Homo sapiens: one gene and its partner. The protein of the gene in region 1 purifies or fractionates together with the protein of each later gene. This does not show direct contact. Each region holds a gene or a part of one and is shown on either strand. Other genes may lie near its edges.

Region 1 (4,272 bases):
AAATAAAGATATAAACAGAAATCAATGAAATATCAATTTTTTAAAAAACCAGTAACAAAACTAAAAGGTGGATCTTTGGAAAGATTAATTAGCTATATAGATCTCTGTAACAGGACTTATCAAAGGGAGAAAAGACATAAACAAAATACAGAACAAAAAAAGAAAAAAGAATTACTGATATAAAATAATAATGTAAAAATAATAATGGAGAGGCCTAATGAATAACTGTAGTATTTAATTTGAAAATCTAGATGAAATAGATAAATTCCTAGATATAAAGTTCAAACTTGCCTTATAGGATAGGAAACTTGAAAAGACCAATAAACATCTACAAAACTAAGGTGTCTCCAAAACTGCAGACCCATTTGTAGGCTCTACTCTCCTCTTTTCCCCTGGGAAGAGATTCCCTCATCTCTGGATGGAAGCAATGATGCTGTCAACCCAACAGAGAGCAAAGAACCCTAGCGAGGCATTCACAATGCCTCATCCTTCTCCACACTGTGATCAATCAGTCCTAAGGGGGGCAACCACGCCATAGACTTTTGGGGGGAACTGTTATGAACATTGAGAAAAATGAGAATTTCTCTCCTTCTGATATCAACTAACCAGTTAGAACTAAATAACCCAGAGCTACTGTGGCCACATTTGTCCCCAATGCAGACAGAATAAAGTAGAAGAAAGCAGAGCTAGGAAGGAATAAAAAAAAAAAAAAGACAGAGAGAGAGAGAGAAGGAGAGATCTGATGCCTGATTTAGAACTCCGTAGATCCATGCCTGAAGTCCTTTCCACCCTTGGACCTCTCATTCATTCCTTTTTGCTTTAAAGCAGTTCAAATTTGATGTCTGTCACCTGTAATCCAAAGAAAACTGATGAAAAATAAAATGTGGGGAAAGGGGAAGGTGCTAGACTTTAGAATTGAATGGCCTTGGATTTGAATCTCAAGGGCGTTTAACTTAACTTCCATGCAGCTCAGTTTCCTATCTAAAGAGGAGTGACAATGGTACCCACTTCACAGAGTCATTGTGAAGATTTCGTGAGATAATCCAGAGGAAGCGCTTGGCAGATATTATTCCATGTCTGTCTCTCCCACCAGACTAAGACCACTGGAAGGCAGGACCTTGCCCAAGTCATCCCCAATTGGAGCTAAACACCTATTTTTCTTTTTACAAGTATCTGCACCTTGGTGCTAATTAAGGGCACCTAAGACATCTCTGCCAACTGACACAGGGCAACCACATTGATGCAACTCCAGCCACATTTTGGTATTAAAAAAAGACTTCATAGAATTGAACGCAGAGCAAAGTTAATTTGCAGCATTTCTGTGTTTACTCAGCTATCCTGACAAAGCCTCCCATTGGTTAATGACTCGGGGGAGAGGACTACCAAGCGGTGAAGGCCACTGGCCCCTCTAACCATTAACCACCCAGGAAGCTGGCAAACAAAATTTAACAGGCAGCATCCACCGCAGGCTTACTGTACACATGCTAGGGTCCAGGACAGCAGGACCAAGCCAGCAGAAACAGCCTGAGCCCACCGCAGACTGTGAGTAACACCTGAGAACCCTCTGTCCCTCCCCCTGCCCAGCCTCCAGAGCAAAGCCATGGCTGCAGCTCGCTTGTTTGGTTTGTTGAGATGCTTTGTTTTTTTAAAGGGCACATTGAACATTAGGGCAGCCAGCAGTGTTATGAGGCAATCTGGTTAGGATTTTCCAGACCCCGGAGTCTGTGAGTCATCCACAGGGGTTCCGATGTCCCCTGGGTTCCTGCCATGCAGGGGGCTGACACAGAGGGCTGTAGCTAAGAACCATTCTCGTCCACTGCCATGATTGATGCTCCTAAGCCCAGCCAGATAGCCACAACAGCCACAACAGCCACAGAGTCGCAGCCTGCAAGCTACAATGCATCTGCTCCAGTCGGCACCACCGATGAAGGATGCTGGCCGCGGGTCAGGGCCTGGGAGGGCTCAGCTGGCCCAGTGCAGGGGTATTCTTCTGAGTCACGCAGACCTGTCTCCACCATGGCTCCTCACTCAGTGACCTGGGGCAGAGATAATGCACAGAGAACAGAACTGTCTGCACTGTACCACATGTCATGAGGTTTCACTACAGAAGGTCAAGAACTGTGCCTGGCTCATAGGGCATTTGTGAAAACAGAGAACACAGTGAATATTTACTAAGTGAGTCTCTTCAGAGATGAGGAACAAAGAGGGCATACTTGACATGAAATGCATGAATAATATTGATACTCTGCATTTTTATATGGCTGGGTACTTTTTTGTTTGTTTGTTTGTTTGTTTTTTAAGATGGAATTTCACTCTTGTTGCCCAAGCTGGAGTGCAATGGTGCGATCTCGGCTCACTGCAACCTCTGCCTCCTGGGTTCAAGCTATTCTCCAGCCTCAGCCTCCCGAGTAGCTGGAATTACAGGCACACACCATCACACCCAGCTAATGTTTTTGTATTTTTAGTAGAAATGGGTTTCGCCATGTTAGCAAGGCTAGTCTCGAACTCCTGACCTCAGATGATCTGCCCACCTCAGCTTCCAAAAGTGCTGGGATTACAGGCATGAGCCACCACACCTGACCATGGCTGGGTACTCTTAAGAGCTGCTTTACTCATCATTTTGCTCTCTGTAGAGATAGGCAGAATGGCATGGCACAAGCTCCGATGTCAGACATCTAGGCTTAGAATTCCAGCTCAGGGGGAGTTACTCTGTCTCCCTGGATCTCAGTTTTCTCATCTGTAAAATGGGCCCCAGGATGACCCATTAAGTGAGGTCACATAAGCCAAGCACTGATAACAGCCACGTCTGGTATTCACAACAATATTGTGGGGTGGATGGAGTTTTCACCCTCATCTTAGAGAATTAACGCAGGAGAAGGTGAGACATGCAATCTCCCCAGAGCTGGCAGGGGAGCCCATCCTACCATTGGCATCATACCGCACAGGGCCTGTGCCTGAGAGGAGATCCCAGATAGGTATGGCAGTGACCAAAGCTAAGCAAAGATTTCACTGCCTGTCATGGGGCAAGGCCATAGAGAAGCACAGATACAAGGCTTCCTGGAGGCGGTGACCTGGGACCTGAGTCTCAAAGGACAAGATGGAGTGAGCCAGATGAGGCAGGGAGATGAGGGACCTACAGACTGGAGCCACATAGGCAGGACTGAGGCAGATCCATCTTTGTTCCCTGCTCCCAGTCCAGAGCTGGGCTCAGCAAACATGGAAAAATCAAAATGACCTGCCCTGGGGAACTGCAGTGACCTGTCTTGCTGTAACCTGCCCTATAGTGATGTGACATGCCCTGCCCTGCCCCACAGTGGGAGAAAAGGCTGATGTGTGCTGGAAGAACCCCTGGCACCCAGTGTTGCTGTGGCTGAGACCCCAAAGGGCCAGATTTGAGGCTGGAGGCAGAACTGTCACCAGGGACTGGGTCACAAAGACCCCCTGGGCTACATTAGTGAGAATCAGCCCTGTGGTGGGCAATGGGGAGTCCCTGAAAACTTCAAAGCAGAACCGATCAGCTTGAATTTTTGAGAATTTAAAAAGATGCAGCTGCAGATGGGTAAAAGGGCTGGAGGGAGTTGAACAGGAGGCAGGGAGACGAGGTAGGGGCTACTGCTGAGTCCTGAGAGAGATGAGGAGGCTGTGCAGAGGCACTGGAGAATAGACAAACACCAGAAAAATGGGTAAGGCTAGAGGTGTTATTATCAGCTCTATTTTATACTGTGGAAACTGAGGCAGAGTTTAAGTAGCCTGTCCCACATCACCTAATTCATACATGGCAGTGCTAGGGCCCCAATCCAGCTTGATCTGCCACGAAACCCAGGATCTTTTCTGGGTTTCGCGACAAAAGAATTGTCGCGAGGACCCAGAAATCCAAGTCAGAAACCCGATGGAGAATTCAATAAAGCCCATCATTTGGGTGCGGGGAGTGGGGAGCAGGTCACACCTGCCTCTATTATCTAAAGCAGAGAACTAGGGGCTAGAGCAGCCAACAGGGGTTGTTTTCCACCCTGGTGAGATAAGGGAGACACGCAAGGAGGGTTTTGGGAGACTCAGGAGAACTAAGGGTTTTGCGGGGGAGTTCCCACCTGTCATTCTTGAGATTCTGCTTTTGGAACACACCAGGGAAGGGGCCTCTAGGGAATTCCAGAGCAGAACAGTGGTTCCCACGCTCGGAGCGCACCTGTTAAAAGAAAACTTTAGACAAATTAAACGTAGCAGAGTTTATTTGAGCAAAGAAACAATTCATGAATCACACAGCACCCTAAACCA
Region 2 (3,500 bases), on another chromosome or scaffold:
GAGGCCGAGGCGGGTGGATCACAAGGTGAGGAGATCAAGACCATCCTGGCTAACACGGTGAAACCCCGTCTCTACTAAAAATACAAAAAAATTAGCCGGCATGGTGGTGGGCGCCTGTAGTCCCAACTACTTAGGAGGCTGAGGCAGGAGAATGGCGTGAACCGGGGAGGCAGAGCTTGTAGTGAGCCGAGATTGCGCCACTGCACTCCAGCCTGGGCGACAGAGCGAGACTCCGTCTCAAAAAAAAAAAAAAAAAAAAAAAAGATTCACAGCACGTAGGACAGCAAAATGCATCCAGGCTGCAAAATTGAAAACTGGAGGGCGGGTGCTGCGTCCTCACCAGAGTGTTACACACCAGGGTCTTCCTGCAGGTATCCAAGGAATGCCAGGCATCCCAGGGCTGTCAGGAATCCCTGGGCTGCCTGGGAGGCCCGGCCACATCAAAGGAGTCAAGGGAGACATCGGAGTCCCCGGCATCCCCGGTTTGCCAGGATTCCCTGGGGTGGCTGGCCCCCCTGGAATTACGGGATTCCCAGGATTCATAGGAAGCCGGGTGAGTGGGCGTCTTTTACTCCCCTTGTTCTGTGAGCTCCTCTCCCCTTTGCTTGTGAATGGACATGCTTTGGTCTGGAATTTGCTAGGGTGAGAGTGTCAGTGGCAGGTTCAGGGCAGCCTCAGGCTTGGTGGGGTCCACACAGCCCTGGAAGGAGCTGCTGCACTTGGACACCATGCAGATGTGATGTGAGTCCAACCGGCTGCCGTGGCCCTTCTGTGGGCTTGTGCTGGGTGAAGCATGTTGTCTGCATTTTTCATGGTGGCCTTGAGAGAACAAAACTTGAATTTTCAGGGATCAGAGCTCTAAAATTGAGCACATCAGTGACACCAGGCCTGAGAGCCCATGGCCGAATCACAGCGTAGACCTGGGCCCGGCAGCCTGGCTTCCCATCCGGGCCACCGTTCACTCAGCCTTTGTTCAGCGGATGTCTGTTGAGCACTTGACATGGGCCAGACACGCTGTTGTGATGGTAACAATGGTGAGCCCTGACCCTGGGCAGGGCTCTCTTCTCCACACCTTCTCCCTCAGCTGCAGAATGAAGGTAGTAGCTACCTTGCAGTTTTCTTGAGTGCTGTATAGACAGTGTGTATAACATAGCACAGCGTGGCTCCCCATAGATTCCGTTTCCTAGAATTCCATTTCTAGCCTCGTTCATATGAAGATAGTGTATTCTCACAGTCCCTAGCACACGGCTGGCCTTCCCAGGGGGATGGGCACATTTGGAGCAGATCAGAAGGTCTGGGCCCCTTGATGTGTTTCAGTCGCGTCCGTGTGAAAAGACCACCAAACAGGCTTTGTGTGAGCAATCAAGCTGTTAATTTCACCTGGGTGCAGGCAGGCTGAGTCTGAAAAGAGAGTCAGCGAAGGGAGATAGGGGTGGGGCCGTTTTATAGGATTTGGGTAGGTAAAGGAAAAAGGGGGGTTGTTCTCTGGCGGGCAGGAGTGGGGGTCACAAGGTGCTCAGTAGGGGAGCTTTTGAGCCAGGCTGAGCCAGGAGAAGGAATTTCACAAGATAATGTCATCAGTTAAGGCAGGAACAGGCCATTTTCACTTCTTTTGTGGTGGAATGTCATCAGTTAAGGCAGAAACCGGCCATCTGGATGTGTACGTGCAGGTCACAGGGGATATGATTGCTTAGCTTGGGCTCAGAGGCCTGACAGTGTGAACCCTTAGTAGCAGGCCAGGGCCTGCCTGTGTGTCTGTCTGGCCCACCTTGGTGTACAGAATTCTTCAGGGGTCTTCCTCCCCTCACTCCCAAAATCTGCAGCTGAGAGTATCTTCTAGCCAGTCTGTGTGTGCTATTCAGGTCACTTTAAAAAAGAAAGATGCCAGCCAGGTGCAGTGGCTCTTGCCTATAATCCCAGCACTTTGGGAGGCCAAGGCAGGCAGATCACTTGTGGTCAGGAGATCGAGACTAGCCTGGCCAACAGGGTGAAACCCCGTCTCTACCAAAAATATAAAAAATTAACCGGGTTTGGTGCTGCGCACTCATAATCCCAGCTACTGGGGAGGCCGAGGCGGAAGAATCGCTGGAACCCAGGAGGCGGAGGTTGCAGTGAGCCGAGATTGCGCCGTTGCACTCCAGCTTGGGTGACAAAGCAAGACTCCATCTCAAAAAAAAGACAAGAAAAAAGAAAGATGCCTGTTTCTGCCAAAGACACCTACAACATCCAAAGGACCTTTATTCATAACAGCTCGAAACTAGGAAACAGCCCAAATGTCCATCAACAGGGAAAAGAATAAATGAACGTGGTATATTCTAACCAGACACAGCATTATCTGTGCATTTTATCTCCATACACAGCAATAAATGAGAATTCTTGGTAAAATCCAACAACCTAACTTCATTTCCAAACTTTATGTTGAACAAAATAAACCAGAAACAGAAAAGTACACGATTCAGTTTCATCGATGTGAAGTTCAAGAACTGACAAGGCTGTTAGATGGGGTATCGGGAGCACAGCTGCTTTAGGTGGGGTTGTCATAGAGTGCTGACAGTGTTCTGTGTCTTTCAGTGACACACGAGTTCAGATGCATTGAGCTGTGCGTTTAAGATGAGTGGACATTACTGTATTTAAGTTTTGCTTCAGAAAAGTAAGCTTTGAGAAAGAAAAATAGAGCATTACCTAAACAAAGGTGCAGCCTGTGGATACCCTCCCCCTTCCTCCCACAAAGGAGCTTTTGTTTTGTTTTGTTTTGTTTTTTGAGACAGAGTCTCACTCTGTCACCCAGGCTGGAGTGCAATGGCATGATCTTAGCTCACTGCAACCACTGCCTCCTGGTTCAAGCGATTCCCCTGCCACAGCCTCCCAAGTAGCTGGGATTACAGGCGCACGCCACCACGCCCAGCTAATTTTGTATTTTTAGTAGAGACAGGGTTTCACCATGTTGGCCAGGCTGGTCTTGAACTCCTGACCTCAGGCAGTCCACCCACCTCGGCCTCCCAAAGTGCTGGGATTCTAGGCCTGAGCCACCACCCCCGGCCTAGCTATATTAATACTGCAGCGACTCATGTTAGGCCATGCTTGTACATTGATGCTGTAGTACTAAAGTCCCAGTGGCACCCAGGTAGACCAGAACTCTCATGCTCCCTCTGGGGAGGAAGCCACTCTGGAGGGGAAAACTAGGGCTTCCAGGAAGCCACCGAGCAACTCAGGCATCTTCTCAATTTCCTTACCAGCCACCTGTGTCTTTCTGGAGAAGTCTCCCTCTGTGCACAGATGGAGGCGCACAGCCCCATATCTGTGTTATAATCTGCAGAGAGCAAGCTCTGCAGTCTGGCTGCCCAAACTGAAATCCCGGTTCTGCCACTTGCTGGCTGAGTGACCTTAAGCAAAACCTTTCTGTGCTTCAGTTCCTTTGCCTGTCATTGGGAAGTAACGGTGCCTGCCTGGCAGGGTTTTCATGAGGCGTGAATACGCTCTTGAGACGGGGTCCACCATGT

What was found. The genes of interacting proteins can lie anywhere in the genome.
Region 2: the proteins of SERPINA6 (region 1) and COL4A2 purify together in Homo sapiens (affinity purification with mass spectrometry, with the first as the bait; one large-scale study listed by BioGRID). This does not show direct contact.

Annotation. Positions count from the first base shown.
Region 1 is NC_000014.9:94,320,537-94,324,808, reverse strand, and holds the start of SERPINA6 (corticosteroid-binding globulin precursor), read left to right. Parts: upstream 1-1,472; 5' UTR 1,473-1,542; intron 1,543-4,272. UniProt on the Homo sapiens protein: Major transport protein for glucocorticoids and progestins in the blood of almost all vertebrate species.
Region 2 is NC_000013.11:110,485,284-110,488,783, forward strand, and holds part of COL4A2 (collagen alpha-2(IV) chain preproprotein), read left to right. Parts: intron 1-371; coding exon 372-553; intron 554-3,500. UniProt on the Homo sapiens protein: Type IV collagen is the major structural component of glomerular basement membranes (GBM), forming a 'chicken-wire' meshwork together with laminins, proteoglycans and entactin/nidogen.